Homo sapiens: one gene and its partner. Each later gene encodes a partner of the first gene's protein in a complex. Each region holds a gene or a part of one and is shown in the gene's direction. Other genes may lie near its edges.

Evidence for each region. The genes of interacting proteins can lie anywhere in the genome.
Region 2: TUBGCP5 (region 1) and TUBG2 share a complex: the UniProt entries of both Homo sapiens proteins name them as parts of the gamma-tubulin ring complex.

Annotation. Positions count from the first base shown.
Region 1 is NC_000015.10:23,015,306-23,019,437, reverse strand, and holds part of TUBGCP5 (gamma-tubulin complex component 5), read left to right. Parts: intron 1-57; coding exon of another isoform or gene 58-103; coding exon 104-219; intron 220-1,396; coding exon 1,397-1,665; intron 1,666-4,132. UniProt on the Homo sapiens protein: Component of the gamma-tubulin ring complex (gTuRC) which mediates microtubule nucleation.
Region 2 is NC_000017.11:42,661,968-42,664,894, forward strand, and holds part of TUBG2 (tubulin gamma-2 chain), read left to right. Parts: intron 1-1,005; coding exon 1,006-1,085; intron 1,086-1,409; coding exon 1,410-1,536; intron 1,537-2,927. UniProt on the Homo sapiens protein: Tubulin is the major constituent of microtubules, protein filaments consisting of alpha- and beta-tubulin heterodimers. Gamma-tubulin is a key component of the gamma-tubulin ring complex (gTuRC) which mediates microtubule nucleation.

The DNA of each region.
Region 1 (4,132 bases):
AATCCGATCACTTTTTTAAAGGCATTTCAGAAATGTTTAAACCTCCTTTTATCCTAGTGACCAGGGAACCCTGAGAGCTGACCGTGCACACTCTCTGCCTCAGGTCTCCCTCCTTTTCTCTCTCTGGGTGGAAACGGTGCGGCCTTACCTGCAGACGGTGGACGAGTGGATCGTGCACGGGCACCTGTGGGATGGCGCCAGGGAGTTCATCATCCAGAGGTGAGCTGCAGCAGAGCACAAGGTCACTGGGGGCTGGCATCACCAGTTTCCTCCCCATGAAAATCAAATGCTTTCGTTAGTTTCAGACAGTACTGAGAAAGCACAGTTCACATCACAGAACTTGTCGTCATCATAGGCAAGTTCTATCTCATTTTTACGGAAGGCATCAGTAATACCAGCTGATTAGAAATATCTTTGTCCAAGTTTTGTCAGTCCGCAACTTTTCTTAAGCAAATTATATTTTTGGATGGTAGTATATTTATGGCTAGCTAGTACACACTGCTTCCCATAAAATGAGTTTAGATGATATCATATGGTTTCAGCTATTTCCATTGTAAATTATCAGTAAAGAGATACAGAAATATTACAGAGTATGCCTCTAATATATTTATTTCTCTGAATTATCTACTGATTTCTTTTACCTTAGTATATTTTACAAAACAAGGAAAATCTTAATCCATTTATGACAATTTCCCTTCAGTTAATTGATTTTTCTGAATAGAATCATATAAACAATGTAGAGCTATTTGTACTCTTTTAGCCCAATTTTAAATTATGCGGTATATTTAGATATATGGTTTCTATTGATAGCTATCCATTGAGCTCATCAGGAAGGATAACTTTAAGTCTTTAGTGTTCTGGAAGGGTAGCAATATGTATGCAATGCTCACATAAGTGAACTGACCCTTCCTTCAACTCAATCTCATATCTGTCACTGTGTTCTGATTCATCAATCTCACATGAGAATTTTTGTGAAAAATAGGACTCTGACTGTTCTTCTAGGGTGATGATTGACCATCATTTTATTGTTAAAAGTAGTCCAGTTAAGAATCTTTGTAGGGAAAATGATAGAGAAGTCTGCAAATTAGTTTCACAGCAGATGGTAAATGGATAAACTTTTATTCTTCTTCTAAAGAGGACCAAATTAGTCATATTTTAAATAATTCCAATTCAGGAAACTATTTCTACTTAAATTTTACTTACACTATTCAAAGTATTTATTCACTTTTCTCTTTAAACTGAGATGAGATTAAAACTGTCCCATTTTGCCTAAAGTTTGCTTCAGTTTACTAATAATTAATACTATGTTTTATAATGTCTGGACAACAAACTAGAACAAGTATGCTGTTTTTAAGAAAGAGAAATAAGAGTTTAAAATTCTTTTGAATCTCTTTAGAAACAAAAATGTTCCAGTTAATCACAGAGACTTCTGGTATGCAACTTACACGTTATATAGCGTATCAGAAAAGACAGAAAATGAAGAAAAAATGAGTGATAACGCTAGTGCGAGTTCCGGCAGTGACCAGGGGCCCTCCAGCAGGCAGCACACCATGGTGTCCTTCCTCAAACCTGTCCTGAAGCAGATCATAATGGCTGGCAAGTCGATGCAGCTGCTGAAGAACCTGCAGTGTGCGGAGAGCACCACCTGCCAGGCAGGAGCCAGAGGTACTTGTTCCGTCTTCCTGTGTCTCTCTTGGTGTTGGGACACCTGACCCTACTCGCTCTTGTCATCCTGATACCTAATTATTTTGTAGTTTGCAAGTCATCAAACCCTCTTATTTCGGTGGCAATTATCGTCATGGTTGAATTAGTAACCATGCTGCTCTTGATTTTTTAAAAGATTGTCTTCATTGAAAACTTTTAGTGCTGTGTTTGAAAAGGCAGTGACGATAAGTTCCACATGCATTTTCCTCACTCTGGATTCCTTAGGACTGGAACTTTAAAAAGTAATCCCCTGCCATTTCTTTTCTTTTATTATTTTTATAAATTGACATAATAATTGTACATATTCATGGGGTACATAGTGATGTTTTGATACATATATAGTGATCAGATCAGGATAATTAGCACTTCCATCATCTCAAACATTTACTACTTCTTTATGTTGGGGACATTCAGTATCCTCTTCTTTGCTATGTGCAACTCTATAATACATTATTAACTATAGTCATCCCATAGTGATACAGAGCACTAGAACTTATTCCTTCCAGCTAGCTATTTGTATCCTTTAACAAATATCTTCCTCTTTCTCCCTTCCCCCTACAAAATCCAGCATCTGGTATCCTGTTCTACTTTTTACTAATACGAGATCAACATTTTTTAGCTACCAGATGAGTGAGAACATGCAGTGTTTAACTTTCTGTTCCTGGCTTATTTCACTTAATGTCCACCATTTCCATCAGTGTTGCTGCAAACAACAGGATTCACTCTTTTATCTTCAAGATATATACATATATATATATATATATCTCACAATTTTTTTACCCATTCATCTGTTGTTGGGCACCTAGGTTGATTCCATGTCTTGGCTGTGTGAATAGTGCTGCAGTAAACATGGGGGTGCGGATGTCTCTTTGATATCCTGATTTCCTTTCCTTTGGATAAATGCCCACCAGTGGGATTGCTATATCATATAGTAGTTCTATTTGTAGTTTTTTGAGGAACCGCCAAACTGTTCTCCATGGTGTCTGTACTAGTTTATGTTCCCACCAACATTGTGTAAGAGTTTCCTTTTCTCCACATCCTCACCAGCATTTATTTTTTGTCTTCGTGATAAATAACCATCCTGACTGGGGTGAAATGATACCTCATTGTGGTTTTGATTTGCATTTTCCCTAATAATTAGTGATGCTGAGCATTTTTTCATCTATTTCTTGGCCATTTGTATTACTTCTTTGGAGAAATGTCTGTTCAGATCATTTGCCTTTTTTTTTTTTTTTTCCTGAGACAGAGTTTTACTCCCATCACCCAGGCTGGAGTGCAGTGGTGCAATCTGGGCTCACTGCAAGCTCTGCCTCCCTGGCTCAAGTGATTCTCCTGCTTCAGCCTCCTGAGCAGCTGGGATTATAGGCACCCGCCACCACACCCGGCTGATTTTTTGTGTTTTTAGTAGAGACGAGGTTTCACCATGTTGGCCAGGCTGATCTCGAACTCCTGACCTCAAGTGATCTGCCCGCCTTGGCCTCCCAGAGTGCTGGGATTACAGGCGTGAGCCACCGTGCCTGGCCTCATTCATTGAATTCTTTCACTGTAAAATTTGTTTGTTAAACATCTGTTTCTGTTGAATTTCTCATTCAAATCATTCTTTTCCTGATTTTGTTGAGTGTTTATTTGTACTGTCTTGTATCTCACCGAGTTCTCTTGTATCTCACCGAGTTTCCTTAAGATTTTAATTCTGAATTATTTTTCCGGCATTTCCTATATCATTGTAGTCTCTTGCTAGAGAATTATTGGTTTTCTTGGGAGGTGTCATGTTTCTTTGCTTTTTCATGTTTGATGTATTTCTACATTGATTTCTACACATCTGGTGGGAAAGTCACCTTTTCCAATTTTATGGAGTACGTTTTGTAAAGAGTTATTCATATGAATGGGTCTTGGAGTGTGGGTTCAGTGGGATGCATTCACCTTGGTTCTGGACAAATGCAGTAGTATAGTCTCCATGTACTTTCTTCAGTTGTAATCCACTTTAGTGATGTTTGCAAGTGCCTCAGTGGCCTACAGTGAGGGGGTTTGTGGCAACAGTGGCACAGTTGGCTGGGCGTGGTGGCTCACGCCTATAATCCCAGCACTTTCTTTTTTGAGACAGTCTTGCTCTATTACCTAGGCTGGAGTGCAGTGGCATGATCTCGGCTCACTGCAAACTCTGCCTCCTGGGTTCAAGTCATTCTCTTGCCTCAGTCTCTCAAGTAGATGGGATTACAGGCATGTGCCACCACGCCTGGCTAATTTTTGTATTTTTAGTAGCGATCGGGTTTTACCATGTTGGTGAGGCTGATCTCAAACTCCTAGCCTCAAGCAATCCACCCGCCTCGGCCTCCCAAAGTATTGGGATTGCAGGCGTGAGCCATCACGCCCAGCCAATCCCAGCACTTTCGGAGGCCAAGGCAGGTGGATTACTTGAGGCCAGGAGTTT
Region 2 (2,927 bases), on another chromosome or scaffold:
CCTCAACTTACAATGGGTTTATCAGGATGTAAACACATCACAAATTGAAAATATTGACTAGGCACAGTGGCTCATGCCTGTAATCCCAGCACTTTGGGAGGCCGAAGCAGGTGGATCATCCGAGCCCAGGAGTTCAAAACCAGCCTGGGCAACATGGTGAAACCCCATCTCTGCAAAATATACAAACATTATCCAGGCATGGTGGTACATGCCTATAGTCCAAGCTACTTGGAGGCTGAGATAGGAAGATGCCTTGAGCCCAGGAATTCAAGGCTGCAGTGAGCTATGATCACACCACTGCACTGCAGTCTGGGGGACTGAGTGAGATCCTGTCTCTAAAACCAAAACAAATTTGAGGACAGGTGCGGTAGCTCATGCTTGTAATCCCAACACTTTGGCAGGCCGAGGCGGGCAGATCACTTGAGGTCAGGAGTTCAAGACCAGCCTGGCCAACATGGTGAAACCCCGTATCTACGAAAAATAAAAAAATTAGCCAGGCGTGGTGGTACATGCCCGTAGTCCCAGCTACTTGAGAGGCTGAGGCAGGAGAATGGCTCGAACCTAGGAGGTAGAGGTTGCAGTGAGCCAAGATCGGGCCATTGCACTACAGCTTGGGTGACAGAGCAAGACTCCGTCTCAAAAAAAAAAAAAATTGAAAATACCGTAAGTAGAAATGCATCAGGTTATAACCCAATAAGCCCATCATGAAGTTGAAAAATTGTAAATTGAACCATTGTAATTCAGATGCTTCTTGATTTAAGATGGGATTATGTCCTGATAAACCCATCATAAAGCCAAAACATCTTAAATTAAACCATCCTAAGTCAGGGACAGTCTGTAGGTAGTCCAGAATTGAAGTGAATTAGTGGATACCCAGCTGGCATCTACTGTAGAATTGACTGCTTACCTGATGTGTGTGGTAAGACCCCACCCATCTGGTATCAGAATTGTGTTGTGAGAGTGTGGCAGGAGAAACTGAGTCTGTTTATTCCTGTATACACACAGGGCTTCGTGCTGTGTCACTCCATCGCTGGGGGTACGGGTTCTGGCCTGGGCTCCTACCTCCTGGAGCGACTGAATGACAGGCAAGCCTGTGTTTGGGGAGAGGGCATTAACCCTGGTTCCCTGAGTAATGTCATTGCTTTTTTCTCTTGAGCTAGAAAGTCTGCCACTACCCCTTTTGAGTCATAGGGACAGACCCACCCAAGGACCATGTTGGAAGCTATTTTGGGGGGTGGGGGTTTACCTGTGGAGGGGAGGGGATCTACAGAGTTTGAAGCTTTCAGGCTTATCCTTTTTGGCTCTGAAGACTCAGTTCTGCCCTCACCCCTTTTGTACAAAATGGCACATATGGGCAGTGATGGAGGGGTCCTTCCGGTTCACTATGCCACCATCCTCTTTTCTCTCAGGTACCCCAAGAAGCTAGTGCAGACTTATTCAGTGTTTCCCTACCAGGACGAGATGAGCGACGTAGTGGTTCAGCCCTACAATTCACTCCTGACACTCAAGAGGCTGACGCAGAACGCAGATTGTGTGGTGAGCAAAGAAAGAGTTGAGGGGCTGGGTGTGGTGGCTCATGCCTGTAGTTCTAGCACTTTGGGAGGCCTAGGCAGATGGATTGCTTGAGCTCAGGAGTTCAATACTAGCCTGGGCAACATGTGAAACCCTATCTCCACAGAAAATACAAAAATTAGAGCTGGGTGCGGTGGTTCACACCTGTAATCCCAGCACTTTGGGAGGCTGAGACGGGCGGATCACCTATGGTTGGGAGTTCGAGACCAGCCTGACCAACATGAAGAAACCCCATCTCTACTAAAAAAACAAAATTAGCCAGGCGTGGTGGCGCATGCCTGTAGTCCCAGCTACTCGGGAGGCTGAGGCAGGAGAGTTGCTTGAACCTGGGAGGTGGAGGTTGCAAGGAGCTGAGATTGCAGCATTGCACTCCAGCCTGGGTGACAGAGCGAGACTCTGTCTCAAAAAAAAAAAAAAATTAGCCAGTCCTGGTAGCATGTGCCTGTAGTCCCAGCTACTTGGAGGCTGAGGCAGGAGAATCACTTGAACCCGGGAGGCAAAGGTTGCGGTGAGTCAAGATCACACCATTGCACTCCAGCCTGGGTGACAGAGCGAGACTCTGCCTCAAAAAATAACATAAAAAAAAATTAGCCGGGCATGGTGGCATGTGCCTGTAGTACTAGCTACATGGGAGGCTGAGGTGGGGGGATTGCTTGAGCTCAGGAAGTCGAGGCTGCAGTGAGCCATGATCACACCACTGCACTCCAGCTTGGGCAACGGAACAAGACCTTGTGTTTAAAAAAAAAAAAAAAAGGGTAGAGGACTTTGGTCTGTCTCCTCAGGCCAGTGAGTCTCATTCACCCCACCTTTCCTCAGCCCCTATACACACAGACAGAAGACCAACAAAGCCATACCTGTGGGCCAAATTAGGAAATAAGGTCCTGACTTCTAAGTTTCTTAGAATCCTTTTAGGCAGCAAAACTCTCAACAAAGTGAATATACCTTCCCCACACCACCACGTATCCCACCTTTGCCTACTTAATGCCCACTCATGCTTGTATTCTTAGCTCAAGGATAACTTTCTTAGCAAAACCCTTCCTGACTACTCAGTCAAGATCAGATTCCTATATGTGTATTTTAGGGAGTTAACTATAATTTTCTGTTTTATATTTAGTGTGCCTCCCTCCACGAGACTATAGGCCTAATGAAGGGAAAGACGGTGCCTGTTCCTCTCTGTGGTCTTCCCAGAGCCAGGCACAGTGTATGGCACATGTGGGTACTCACGTGTTTGTTTACTGCCCTGCGTAGTCCGAGAGTATCTCATGGTGCCCCAGAAACAGTACTTTTCTTTCTTTTTATTTTTTATTTATATTTATATATATATATATATATTATATATATTTATACTTTTTTAT